2 linked regions of the Homo sapiens genome follow. The protein of the gene in region 2 interacts with the protein of the main gene of each other region in a pairwise test. Each region holds a gene or a part of one and is shown on either strand. Other genes may lie near its edges.

Region 1 (7,023 bases), on a different chromosome or scaffold from region 2:
ACAAATTATCCAGCTTTTCCGATTGTTCTAGGCAGGAGAACCAGTCTGCCTCTGGCCACTGTAACCCACTTAGATGCAGAAGTAGATGTTTATTAAATGCTCATTTATTCCCCCTTTGCTATCTGTTCAGACATAACAGCACATCTTCTAAGTTCCCCTTAGCCAGTTGGCCGGCTTCACCATGTTTTCATTTTCAGGCTCCTGGATTTCCTTACAAGTGTGGGTATTGCTCAGTTTATTCAACCACTGCCTCTTCACTTGCCCTTAAGTCGTAGTGATTAGTGCCAACGCACCAGTCCTCGTCGACTATAAATGTTGTGTAACTTTTCAAATTACATTTTACACATACTCTAAGCCTTAGTCAATCACAGGCTTGTTATTTCATTCCCTGATTTTTCACTTGAAAATTGTTTCTGTCTTCCTCACAGATTATTTTGCTTTATTCAGGTATTTCACTTGCTTTTCCTCAGAAAATGATCACTTCATCAGATAGGCAAGACTTTTCCCAGTCTTTTCTGAAAAATATGTGTTGTCCACCACTCCCGTAAATGTCACTCTTAGATTAATACAGACCACAAGAAAGCTATGTGTTTTGGCAGCATTCTTTGGAGCTTTTATAGATCTATATCTAAGAATTATTCACGTATTTTTAATTTAACAAAGTTAAATAAACATTCATAATTAAATGTAGTTTTCATTTTGAAAAGTTAACACTTCATGGTGCTTACCATGTACCTGACACAGTTCTAAACACTTCACAGCTACTAACTTATTTTATCCCCATAACCATTCTATGAAGTAAGAATTATTATCCCTGTTTTACAGATGAGGAATTTGAGGCCCAGAGAGTAAATGGTAGAGTAGGGATTGAAAGGCTGGCTTCAGGCCCCAAACTCTACACCACTCTACAGCTACATGAAATTTATCAGCATATTGATTGCAGGAGTGCTCTGAAATATATTCACTACTCAATAAGAAGCCACAGACAGCTTCTCCCACATTTTATATCAGGAAAGGCTATGGGGCTCCCTTCTAGCAAAAGTGGATGGTTTGTATTTCTGTGAGCTTATCTAATCCTGGCTGTATTATTGCCCTACTTTTATTTTTCTTTTACCCAGTCCCCTTAATTATTTATTTTATCTTTTTATGCTGTTCCATTTTTCTAAACTGGCATAGCTGTTTTGTGGAATGTGGTAGGAAATAAATATATAAATAAAATTAATTTTTTCCAAGTCTTTATGAGATCAATCTATCCATTGCCAGGAAAATATCATTTCTATTACCAAATCTTGCTGTATAGTCCTAGTTATGTAGCTAGTGACTCACTTTCCACATCCTCATTTCAATTACAAAGTCATGTCTGTGTGAACTAGAAAAAGAAATGAAAATACCACCTAGGTCTTTCAGTTTCCTACTTAAAATGTCAGAGTCTCTGGAGACACATTCCAGAGCTTTACAGTCCATGTCTGCCCTAATTGGCCACAGAAGTTACAGGATTCAAGCCATGATGTGTTCAGCAGGAGTCTAAGTACACAGGCAATGAGCCAGTTGGGCTATAACTGGGTGGGGAGATGGAAAGTGCTTGGTTAAATAGGCAAAGACTCAAGACCAAGAATCCAAGCTGAGAGTGGGGTGATGGCAGGTCAGGAGCCATTCGAGAACAGAATGATGGAGGTTACAGTGTAGCATCTGGGCGGGTGGGGGGGATAGACAGGTGCTAGAACAGCAGCCTAGCGTGAGTCAGTGGGCTTCCTGTGACCTAGCTTTGTCTGTTTCTCTTGCTTCATCTTTCACCTACGCCCCTCGCATCTTCCCCCCAGTCACACTAATAAATGACTGAATGTTCTCCAAATATGCTGAACTGTTTCACACCTCCACACCTTTTTTCATGCTGTTCTCTTCCTTTTGCCTCTGTCTACCTGACAAATATCTACTCATTTTTTTCCAGATCCTGCTTAAATAATTTCGGTATGAAGCCTTTCTTGCCTCCACCACAGCCTATCCCCATTCATCTTTCTTGCCTTTCCACACCCATGTACTTGTTGCCACATCTATCTAGACCTTTTGCACCATAGCTCTCTGATATGAGAAATGTCACATTACTATATTTTTCTAAATCAAATTTAGAAAGCATTGGTTCCCAAGGGCCAGGATGTTGACACACGCAATATCTTCATGGGTGCCTCTACCCCTAGGATCATACCCAGAATCCAAAGAGCTTAACACAGTACAGAAAATGTGGAAAATGACCTTCTGGTCTTCAGCACACCTCCCAGGACAATAGTGAATAGAAGTAGCAAGAGCAGACATCTCTGCCTTGTTTCTGATGTTAGAGGCAGAGAATCCACTCTTTCACCACTACATATGAGGTTAGCTGTGGATTTTTTTATAGAGGTTTTTATCAGGTTGAGGAAGTTCCATTCTACTCCTAGTTTACTGAGCATTTTTATTATGTAAGGGTGTTGGATTTTGCCAAATGTTTGTGTGTGTGTGTGTGTGTGTGTGTGTGTGTGTGTGTGTGTGACGGCATCTCACTCTGTTGCCCAGGCTGGAGGGCAGTGGTGTGATTTCGGCTCACTGCAACCTCCGCCTCCTGGGTTCAAGTGATTCTCCTGCCTCAGCTTCCTGAGTAGCTGGGACTACAGGCACGTGCCACCACTCCCGGCTAATTTTTGTATTTTTTTAGTAGAGATGGGGTTTCACCATATTAGCCAGGCTGGTCTTGAACTCCTGACCTTGTGATCCACCCACCTCGGCCTCTCAAAGTGCTAGGATTACAGGTGTGAGCCACCACGCCCGGCTGCCAAATGTTTTTTCTCCATCTATTGAGATGATTATGTAGTTTTTGTTCTTTATTCTGTTAATATAGTATATTACATCAGTTGATTTGAGGGTATTAAACCAGCCTTAGGGATAAATCCTACTTTGTTGCAGTATATAATTCATTTTATATGTTGCTAAATTTGATTTGCTAATATGTAGTTAGGGTTTTTGTATCTATATTAATAAGAGATATTGATCTATAGTTTTCTTTTCTCATGATGTCATTGTTCTGGCATGGTTCTGTGTACCCACACCTAGTGCTTGGAACATAATAGGCGCTCAATAAATTCTTTTTTTTTTTTTGAGATGGAGTCCCGCTCTGTCGCCCAGGCTGGAGTGCAGTGGTGTGATCTCGGCTCACTGCAACCTCCACCTCCCGGGTTCAAGTGATTCTCCTGCCTCAGCCTCCTGAGTAGCTGGGATTACAGGCATACACCACCATGCCTGGCTAATGTTTTTGTATTTTTATTAGAGACCGGGTTTCACCATGTTGGCCAGACTGGTCTCAAACTCCTAACCTCAGTTGATCTGCCCGCCTCAGCTTCCCAAAGTGCTGGCATTACAGGCGTGAGCCACTGTGCCTGGCCTGAATAAATTCTTAATAGACAAAAAATTCACAAGTAAATGCACGAATCAATGTAAAAATAGAAGATTTAAAATAATACTAATAATCCAAATCCTGAGCCCCATCAGAAGTTACTTAAGCCAACTGAAATGGAGTCCCCTGAAACTTCCTGGTTTCTATCCCTTCCAGGCTTAAACAGGCCATGTCCTCAGAGCAGGGGCAGGTCCAACCCACAATCCACATACACACACACCATGATTTGTATACCATTTATTTCCAACATGATGGATTTTAAGCATCAAGCTGACTTTCCTGCACATTTGGATTTGTTCTTCAGGAAGACAGCACATCTCTAGATAGAAGCAAAATGCTAAGAAAGCATGAACTTCTGAAGGCACGCATAAAGCTCTTGGCACAGTACCTGGTGCCTGATAAGCATTCCTTTAAAGTTTGTAATTATGATTATGACTAATTTTCCCATGCCCAAATCATCTGTCCCACCCCCAAAACCTTCTAGTGAGGATGCATCATGCCTCCCGAATTATCAGTCAAGTCCTACCCCACAAAGAGGTCAGCAACCGCAGGAATGGTACATACCTGTTTTTCTTGGAGCTGTTAACAGGTTTCCTACCACTTGCTGTGCCTACCAGACCTCCTCAGAGCTCCGCACTGCACAGAATGATGACACTGCTTTAAAGTGCAGAGCCTCCCCTACACCCACCCCAGCATGTGTCCCGTGGGGTCTAACTCTCATGCTACAGCAAGTGTTTTCTGTCTCACTGTGTCACTTTCTATTTGTCTTCCACAAGACACTGATAATCCTCTTTCCTCTAAAAATCTTTTCCCCCTTTTTGCCTTTCCTCTTTTATTATTTGTCTCAACTTTTCATATAAGAGTAGCCAGAACTCATGTGTTTTCTTCTATCTTATGTAGCAGGGAGGTTGTTACGGTTTGTACCAGATGTAACTGAAGATCACCCCCAGTAAGAGGACACAGTTTGAGATGATTATGATAGTTCTAACTCCATATTTCCTGGAGTTTTGTGTTTTTTGTTGAAAAGCTACCACAAAAAAAATTGCCTCATTTTCATGGCTCATTTAAAAGGGTACATCTACAAAATCTTCTCAGAAGTCTGGTTGTCTCTTCTTCTTACCCATGCCCTAACCTCTGCCATCACCATGGCACATGGCAAAGTGCCACCCTCTGTTCCATAATAACCCATCATCCACAGAGGCACTGCCCCCAGAATCCTGACTCTTCTTGTCCTGTGATTGGCTGAGATGATCTCAAGGGCCCTGCACCCACCCACCTCTCCCTCTGCTCTTTCTTTATGTTTTTTTTTTTTTTTTTTTTTATGTTTTGAGACAGAGTTTCGCTCTTATTGCCCAGGCTGTAGTGCAATGGTGCAATCTCAGCTCACTGCAACCTCCACCTCCCAGGTACAAGCAATTCTCCTATCTCAGCCTCCCAAGTAGCTCGGATTACAGGCATGCGCCACCACGTCCAGCTAATTTTTTTGTATTTAGTAGAGATGGAGTTTCACCATGTTAGTCAGGCTGGTCGAGAACTCCTGACCTCAGGTGATCCACCCGCCTCAGCCTCCCAAAGTGCTGGATTACAGGTGTGTGCCACCGCTCCCGGCCCTGCTCTCTCTTTCTCCTCCCACTTTGCAGGCTGCTTTCACTGCCTTCTCTCTATCTGTCTGTCTATCTATCAATCATCTATCTATCTTTATTTATTTAATTTTTTGTAGAGTCTTGGTATGTTGCACAGACTGGTCTTGAACTCCTGGGTTCAAGCAGTCTTCCTGGCTTGGCCTCCCAAAGTGCTGGGATTACAGATGTGAGCCACCACATCTGGCCTTACTACCTTGTACCCTCTCTGGACATTCCAGGGATACTGCCCAGTCAGCCCATTCTAATCCCAGTTGTTAGCAAACAACCAGACTTTATTACCCTCAAAAGAAGAACTGAATTTCTACAACAGACAACACCCCATACAAGTCTTGGTTTCAAGACACTGCTTTTTTCTTTTTCCTTTTGAGACAGAGAGGGTCTCACTCTGTCACCCAGGCTGGAGTGCAGTGGTACAATCATGGCTCACTGAAGCCTTGATCTGCTAGGCTCAAGGAATCCTCCCACCTCACCCTCCTGAGTAGCTACGGGTACAGTCACGCACCATGGGCTTCAAGACTCTGTTTTTAAGAATTATAATTCTTAAAAGTCCACATGTATGCTGAATGTGGTAGGCCCCTCTGGGATGAACACCTACTTCAAGTTACAGGGAATTTCTTAACTTTTCTCTCCATTGTTGACCCTTTTATATACTCTCTCTGGCATATCTCAAACCAGGGAGGAAGAGTAGTACATTGTGATATTGATGATTCATGCAGGAAGTCCCTCCCTACCAGGGCCGAAGTTAAATGGCTCTGCCCTCCTCAGCACCCCTGGAAGTCAGGGAAACTTCAATTGGGACTGATCCTCAAACCATGCCATAGACTAAAGATGAACCAGTATTTCTGTATGTCCTTGTTTCAGAAAAGGGAATGGCTGCTGTTAGCCAAGGGGGAACCACCGGGCCCAGGACACAGCCAGAGAATTCCTGCCAGCACCTTCTATGTGATCATGCCGTCACACTCCCTCACACTGCTGGTAAAGGCGGTGGCCACGCGGGAACTGATGCTGCCCAGCACCTTCCCCCTGCTACCTGAGGACCCACATGATGATAGCCTTAAGAATGTGGAGGCAAGTGGAGCCCAGATCTCATGGGACAGATCTAGAAGCGAATGGAGTTTGAGAAAGGGATGAGGGAGAGGAGTGAGCCCATGAGGGAATGGATGCGGAGCTGAAGGAGTGTGGTAAGAGAGTAAGAAGAGAAAGCAAGGATAGGCAATTATGCCAGAAGAAGGAAGTAAACACTTAGATTATGGCAGCAGGGTAAGGAGTGAAATAGAATGGAGGGAAATGAGGTTTGAGAACAAAAAACTGGGAGAGAAAAGGGATATTGGCATCAGTGATGACTGGGAATTAGAGCCATCCTGGAGGACACACGACATGCACACGGACCTGAAATCTGAGGAATGGGTGGCTGTGAAGGAGAAAAGGGAGCATCACAGAGTGGAAACCTGATGTCAGGCCAGGGCACAGGGAGGCAGGGGAGGAAGCCACAACACCAGCAGGTCCAGCTCCTGGGGATGCACTGGACGCTTGTTTGGTTTGGTTTTGTCTTTGCGCAGACTGGTTCTCCTGCCCCCACCTCCTCCCCAGAGAGGAGATTGTGAAGTTAGACAAGGGAGAGCAGAACTTTGGGAGGGAAAGGAAAGAAGACACAGTGGAAAGCAGAAGAAAAAAGAAGGGAGAAGGGAATAAAAGGAGACCCAAAAAATCAGCCTTTGTATGGGTTTTCGTGTCTTTGTGTGTTTTTGTGCCCGAGTGTGTCTGTGGTTGGGTCTCTAAATTGGTGGCAGTGGGTGTAGATGCGCCTGTGCACATCTGTGTGCTGGTGTGTTCTTAGGGGTCTGTCTGCATTGCACGTGTGCATATGTGTATACCTGTGTTTGCGCTCATTTATGTTTGTTGAGAAAAGGCAGCCAATGTAGGTGCCCAAAATAGGAAGGGCTTCAAGATGAGATGTGA
Region 2 (7,380 bases):
AATCATTCTAGAAATGGATGGTACAGAACTATTCATACTTTGCTATCAAAACCCATAGCAACTATTTATAAAATGACTGGCTAACATTAGAGGTGCAGTGTATAGCCCTGGAGCAATCCATCTCTGTGCAAAATGAACTGGCCTGAGCCAGAATCAAACCAATGACCTTGGCCTCTTTGGCCCCACACTTTCCCTAATAGAACTAACTGGCCCCAGCTGCAGCCTTATGTAATGGGTATCTATGAGGACAGAACAATAGTTCCCTGCAGGGTACACTGGCTCACCACTGGAGGTTGTTAGGTTATCTAGCTAACCAGCCATTAACATTGAAAATGAATAGAAAGTACATAAATAAATGCTTAGAGTAGTGCATAAGGTTTTCTGTTGAGATTCTTAGGTTCTAGGCCAGAAGTTTTCATCTTGGTGGCAAGGTTTCTATACCAATACTAGAAGATTCTAAGGTAGTCAACTCTGGGTTCTAGAACCAACTCTGCCACTAACTATTATAGCTTCAAAACCTTGAGCAAATTGTTGAGCTTTATTTTACCTTGGTACAACAAGGGGGCTGAAATAGCTCACATGAAACGTCCTTTTTTGACATTCCTTTCCCCACAGGTACAGTCACATTCTCAGACATCAGGGCTGTTTATTGCACTGAACAAAATTAAAGTATAAAATTAGGCAACAGCAATACTGTACTTTCAAAATGTGTCAATGAAGTGATGGCAAAAGTAAACATAAGAAGCTAGACACAGCCAGGTGCGGTGGCTCACGCCTGTAATCCCAGCACTTTGGGAGGCGGAGGCGGATGGATCACTTGAGGTCAGGAGTTCGATACCAGCCTGGCCAACGTGGTGAGACTCTGTCTCTACTAAAAATACAAAAATTAGCCGGGTGTGGTGGCGCAGGCCTGTAATCCTAGCTACTCGGGAGGCTGAGGCAGGAGAATCGCTTGAACCTGGGAGGCGGAGGTTGCAGTGAGCCAAGATCATGCTGCTGCACTCTAGCTTGGGCAATAGAGTGAGACTCTGTCTCAAAAAAAAAAAAAAAAAAAAAAGCAGCAACAGCAGCTAGACACAGAAGGCCACATATATATGATTCCACTTATATGAAGTATCAAAAATAGGCAAATCTGTAGACTGGATGGAAAGCAAGTTAGTGGTGACCAGGGGCTGGGAGAAGAGAAGAATGGGAGGTGACTGCTTAATAGGTATGGCGTCAACTTTAGAAGCCATGAAAATCGGTTGGAACTAGACAGTGGTGAGAGTTGTACAACATTGTGAATTTACCGAATGCCACTACATATACACTTTAAAATGGTAAAATTTATGTCATGTATACTTTATCACAATAAAAAAGTGTCCCCCCAAAAAGAGAGAAAGGGATGGCAAAACATAGCAGGGCACAGACTCACTTGACGCCTGCTTCAAGGTGACATGAGAGGAGGGTGGGGGTGGGGGTCCCTCTGAGGAAGCCCTGGGAGATCCAGGAATAAGAGAGTGGACATTAGTGCAGGATTTGTCATCTAACTGGGGCCAGGTCCTGGCCAGGGACAAGTGTAGCAGTAAATGGGGCTCCAGTGAAGTATGAGCATCTCCCCGAGTGCACTGATGATGACCTTCCCTCAGCCCAACATGTTCCTGGCCTCCTCCCACTGGTGTCAAACTGTATCCATCTAAGTCCCATTTCAAAGCCCACTCCCTTCTTGAGCTCCCCCACCGTCCCCCCCCACCCCCCATCCCCCATTCAGAGACACATTTCCCTCTTTTTTATTTATTTTTTTTCTGAGACAGGTTCTCACTCTGTCACTCAGGTTGGAATGCAGTGGCATGATAATGGCTCACTGCAGCCTCAAAATCCTGGGTTCAAGTGACCCTCCCATTTCAACCTTTAGAGTAGCTGGGACCACAGGTGCATACCTGGCTAATTTAATATTTTTTATTTTTTGTAGAGATGAAGTTTCCCTAGTTGTCCAGGCTGGTCTTGAACTCCTGGACTCAAGGGATCCTCCTGCCTTGGTTTTCCAAAGTGCTGGGATTACAGGTCGTGAGCCACTGCCCCTGGCTATATCTTGTCCTTCTAAAAGTTGACAGCACTTACTCTCTGTGCCATTCCCAGGGCACAAGCCTGCTTCAGCCTTCTAGAGACACCTGTATTCTCTTGCCACCCAAGGCCTTCTGCTTCTCTTTGCCTCCCAGCATCCAAAACAGTAGTGCTCAGGAAATACTTGTGGCTCTGTGATGGAGTGACTCAGGCAGCCCCACGGGGAGTAGAGTTTTATGAGTTTAATATGAACCATACCCTGAAATCTGAGAAATTTACCTCATTGCTCATGCTGGAAACCCTCAGTTCCAGTCGGATTTGCTTGGAGCTGGATGGAATTGTGTTGCTTTTCATACTGAAAATGATCATCTAATTTTTAAATTTAAAAAACATTTACGTAGCACCTACTTCACGTTCGACAGGAATCTCAACACTTCACAAATGTTAACTCACTGACTTTTCCTAACAGAGGCATTGAGAAGTTAAGTAACTTGCCCAGGGGTCAAAGCCAGTAAACGGCAGAGCTGGGCTTCAAATCCAGGTTCCTTGCTTCCAGAGGAGATGCTCTTCAGTTTGTTCTGGTGCCTGAAACTTACAGATGAGTGGCAAAACCCTCCATGAACGGGGAAAAAAAAGACATTGATGTATTTATTTCAAGGGAAATGTGTGTGTGTGTGTGTGTGTGTGTGTGTGTGTGTGTGTGTGTGTGTGTTTTGCCCATCGTCCCCCTTTTCTTCCTCATTGAAAGCAAAATGCTCTAAAGCAAACAGTCTTTTTTCACACCTGAGACACCGGCGGTGTTCATTTTTGCTTTGGCAATCAAAATGGAAGAGGAAACTTGTGTGGTTTCATCACTGGTGCTTTCGGGGTGTGTGGGGCGGGCTGTCCTTCTCCCTCGGTCCTGGCTCATCGGCCCGAGCCCCCCTCCCCAGGCCTTGTGGCCTCCGGTCGGTCGTGGAGACATAAGAGGCCGCCTTTCCTCTGTTAACACCGGGAATGTGCCCCAGCCTCTCCCTCCTTCCTGCAAATCCAGTCCTTGTCCTGGAGAACCTCAGCGTCTTCTTATGCCTGCCTCTTTCAAAGCCTCGTAGGATTTACACCTGATTAACAACGTTTGCATTAGGATCGCCAGACACCGGCGCACGGCCCCGCAGGCCCGCGCGAATCTTCTACATTTTCATGTTTCGGATGTTGTCCACCTGACTTGATGCATATTCAAATGTCTCTCTCCCGACGTGGGAGGCCGGAGTCAGAACCTGACAGACCTGCCGTTTACTAACTGGGTACCCAGGGCAAATTACTTCACAAGTCTGAGTCTCGGTTTCCTCACCGTGAACCGGACTGGTACCCATAGGTTGCGGCGTGGATCAAATGAGATAGCGCAGGGGCGGGACCCGCGCACAGCAGCTCTCTTAGTTCCTCTTGGCGAGGTTTACGTAGTAACACATGCTTGTCTGTTTCCCATTTTTTCCCAGAGCACCCTCATGCTCTGGGGGCAGGAAGGGAGTCTTCGCATCACACCGAAAAAGTCCCAACGGGCACGGTGTAGGCGCCTGTGGTCCCAGCTACTCGGGAGGCTGGGGCAGAAGGATCGCTGGACCCAGGAGGTCGAGGCTGCAGTGAGCTATGACTGCGCCACCGCACTCCAGCCTGGGCGACAGAGCCAGACCCTGTCTTGATTAAAAAATAAAATAAAATAAAGAAATTAAAGTCCTTATAACCCTGGTTAGAGCGTTCCCGCCCACTGGTCTCTTAGGGCACATTTAGGACAACCTGAAGAAGCCACTCTTCTTGGGACCCTAACCCTTACCCCAACTCCTCGGTCCCCAAAGGCTAAGGGCTCGGGATCCGAAGGAGGCCCAGCTGAGGTCGCTGGGTGGGGCTCTGGGAGGAGGAAATGGGGTTCTTGAGGGAGCTCGCGCTCCAGCTCGCCTCCTCCTGCGAGGACGCCCCCTGCCCGGACACCTGCTGCCCGAGCGAGCGTCGGGGCCGGGCCTCCCCGCGGGGCAGTCTCGGCGCGCAGGTCCCACCTGCCAGGCGCGGAACGCGGGCGGCCTCGGGCGCAGCCTCCGGGCGCCCCGCCCCCGCCTCCCCCGCGCGGCCCCGGCGCCCGGCCGCACCCCCTCCCAGCCCGCGGCGCCCCGGCACCCCTCTCCCTCCCCGGCGGGCTCCGCGGAGCATTGTACTCACATCCGGGGCTGGGTTTTGCTTTAATGCGAAACGTAATTAACCCGGAAAAAAGAGCCGAGGGACGGGAGAGAAGGAGGGGGCACTGGGGGAGACCAGAGCGAGGGGAGCGAGAGGCGCGGAGAGTTTGGCAGGCAGACCCAGAAATCCCTGGAGCGCGGCGGACCCGGCGGCCGGAGGGGCGACCCCGCCCGATGTAACGCGCCCCGCCCGAGCCCCGGCCCCTGCACGGGGGGGTAAGTTGGGCGCCCTCGCGGGCTCGGGAGTGGAGAGGCGCAGAGGGGCGCGCGGGGGCTGGCGGGGCTGGGGGTGCAGGGGGCGCCCCGGCGGAGGCCTGGCGGCCTAGGGGCGCGAGGGGCGCGCGCGCAGGGCTGAATACGCCGGTCCTAGTGGCTGACAGGCGAGGGGAGGTGGCCGCAGACCCTGGAGGCCTCCTCCAACCCTCTGGGAGAGCCCCGAGGGCAGCCCCTCCTCCAAGTGCCCCGGGTGGCCAAGGTCGCCGCCGCCAGGGGTCGGGCTGCGGGGGGTGGGGCCGCGGAGAGGGTGGGGGCGGGAGTTCTGCTGAGCTGCATTTTCTCACGTTTGCAGCAGCGAAACTTCTCTGCGGGTTCTGGCGCTGGGGCACCGACCCCGCAACGACTGCCCGGGCTGCGGGAGGGGAGGAGAGCAGAGAACGTCCCCAGGCAAGTCCCTTGGGTACGGATTGGGCCATGGAGACTCCTCTTTCACTCCCCCGACTACCTTATTAAATGACAGGCCTAGAAGGCTCCCCTAGGGACTCCTGTCCTTTCCTCTGGGTGCAGCCTGGACTTCGGGCTTCTGGAACTCCAGACAGTGAAAAGGACTGCCCTAAAATGCAGGTTCGGTGCCAGGTTGGGTGAGCCCTCGAGGGGAGCTGTCGTTCTCTCTCTCACCAACTTCTTCCTCACCTTACACGCTTCCCTTTTCTCCTCCAGTCCTAAAGACGATTTCACCAAAATTTTTTTAAAAAGAAAGAGAAAAGAAGGGTGTGGGGGGGGGTGGTGGGAAGCTAGGCCGTTTAGAAGGGAAAAGTGTCCCTGCACGCCCAGAGAGGGGCGCAGGGCCCGCTGCGGCCGGAGCACCCTCACATCTCCTCCCCGGGGCCAGCCCTGCCCCCAGGCCCTAGCCTTAGGGTTTGGCTTCCTTCCTTCTTGGTGAACGCAGGTTCAGGATGTATCTTCCCCTTCTCATTCCTTCTTCCTGCCCGCCCCCTTTCTTTCTTTAGGGCTCCAAGTGGGGTTTTCAGAGGACAGTAAACGGCAGAGAAGAGGGAGGGGAGAGCACCCCACCAGAAAGCCAGCTGTGGCTCTGGGGGCTCTGAAGGCTGAGCTGTAGATGCACTTGGGGCTGAAGTCCCAAGATTGCACTAATGGTGTTCTTAATCTATCTGACCAAGTCCCATTTTCCCTTCTTTTGTCATTTTTTTTCTTTGGTTGCGAAGCCTTCCGAAACAGCAAAGCAAAAGATCTTGAAAGAATAGAAGTTTTTGCTTTCTATTTCAGTTGCATTCAGTTGACATGTATTATACATGCAAGGCAGTGATGAACAAAACACAACCCCTGTCTTTATTTTTTCTTTTTCCTTTACCTCTGGAGGGCTGGACCCTGTCTTTGGCGAGCTTACAGGACTTGTAAGCCCCCCACTTGTTTTGAGAAGCCAGAGTAAGCTTTTAGAAAGCATCATCATCATCTCAGACATTAGCCCTCTTCACCATGTGCCGCCTGAAGGCAGATGACTTTTGCACTATCAGAGGTCTAGCTTGTAGTCTAGATTATGGCCAGCCCAACGTATGACATGTACCAGGTGCTAAGTAAATGTTTATTGCATTAATGAATGAATGCAAACACATGAATTGTTTGCACTTGTCCAAATGGCAGAGAAAAGAGCAGTGTGGTTGTTCCTCAAACCTGTAGGGATTTGGTTCTCCAAGCTGGTACATGGGAGTTATTAGTCCGGATGTTGCCTTTACACCTAAGTATCCTTTGACCCTGTTTGTACATTACAGCATGCTTTCTACAAATTGTCTATGGCACTCCTAGTGGGGTTTTAGCTAGCTGGTAATGGGAGCCTTGCTCATTTCACAGATTGGTAATTACCTTGGTATTGATTGAGAAACTGCCTGCCCTTTGGTGAAGAGTTTTTGCAACCCTTTCTTTTTCCTTGTCATTGGTGCTTTCTTCTCTCTTCTGTGTTAAGGAAATAGGGCCTGCAGATCCCATCATGTCATGGTAGTGAGCTGAACCATATTCAGCTCGGTATTTTTGAGTGGTTAAAATAAATCTTGAAGACATGCAGGTTTTGGTTGGTGCAGGTTTTTGTTCTGCAGAAGTGGGAAGGGGAAGGCTGATGAGCCCTATCAGCTGAGCCCCAGAGCAGCCCTCCCACTACCTTGCCAAGTGTTTGCCGAAGTGCTAGGATACTAGGAAGACCCAAGCAGCGTTGGTCTCCTGTCCAATTCATGGGACAGATGGACAGGTGGGTGATGCCCCTGCTGAAAGGCTGGATGACTCAGATGAGAGCTTGCTGCAGACCACAGTGCATCAGAATATCTCTTCTGATTCACGGAAACTGCTGTGGCTCGACTTATTCCGGTTGTGATAGACCTAGGGCTTGGAAAAGAGGATCTGGGTGCTGGGACGTTGGGTTGCTCTGCCCCCTCTCTTTTTCCACCATGAACAGTTTGGGTTGCCTTACTTTCCGTTTTCCATCTGTCTCAGTGAGCTGGATGGGACTCCAGCAATCTAATCTGGTAGGCTTTGGAAAGGAAGGAAGGAAAGCAAATATTATAGTGTGTTGGCCTATGGGAAGAGAAGAACCCTGGCCCTGCCTGATATGAGCCCATTATTGAGATGGGGTATTGGACAGGCGGGGGAGATAGGGCAGCTGAGAGGTGGGAGGGATGCGGCCCCATCCTGTCAGTAGAGGAGGCCGGGGGTTGGTGTAGTGAGACCCTACTGTTCCTTCTGAAAGCCCCTTCCCTGCCCTGACCCCAGTTGACTGAAGTGATTTGTTATGCATTAAAGCCGGAATTGGGCTTTCTCACTGTGGAGGTCCCAGCCCTGCTGGGGCAGGGGCTCCTGATATTGCCCAGTGTGGGCAAAAGGCTTGGGGGCTTTGGCCCTGTGGTGT

What was found. Proteins that work in one complex are often made in the same cells at the same time.
Region 1: the proteins of PLEKHA2 (region 2) and M1AP interact in binary tests that used the Homo sapiens proteins (3 or more experiments, as listed by UniProt).

Annotation. Positions count from the first base shown.
Region 1 is NC_000002.12:74,561,326-74,568,348, reverse strand, and holds part of M1AP (meiosis 1 arrest protein), read left to right. Parts: intron 1-5,925; coding exon 5,926-6,132; coding exon of another isoform or gene 6,133-6,195; exon of another isoform or gene 6,196-6,775; intron 6,776-7,023. UniProt on the Homo sapiens protein: Required for meiosis I progression during spermatogenesis.
Region 2 is NC_000008.11:38,896,980-38,904,359, forward strand, and holds the start of PLEKHA2 (pleckstrin homology domain-containing family A member 2), read left to right. Parts: upstream 1-4,366; 5' UTR 4,367-4,466; intron 4,467-4,784; exon of another isoform or gene 4,785-5,090; intron 5,091-7,380. UniProt on the Homo sapiens protein: Binds specifically to phosphatidylinositol 3,4-diphosphate (PtdIns3,4P2), but not to other phosphoinositides. May recruit other proteins to the plasma membrane.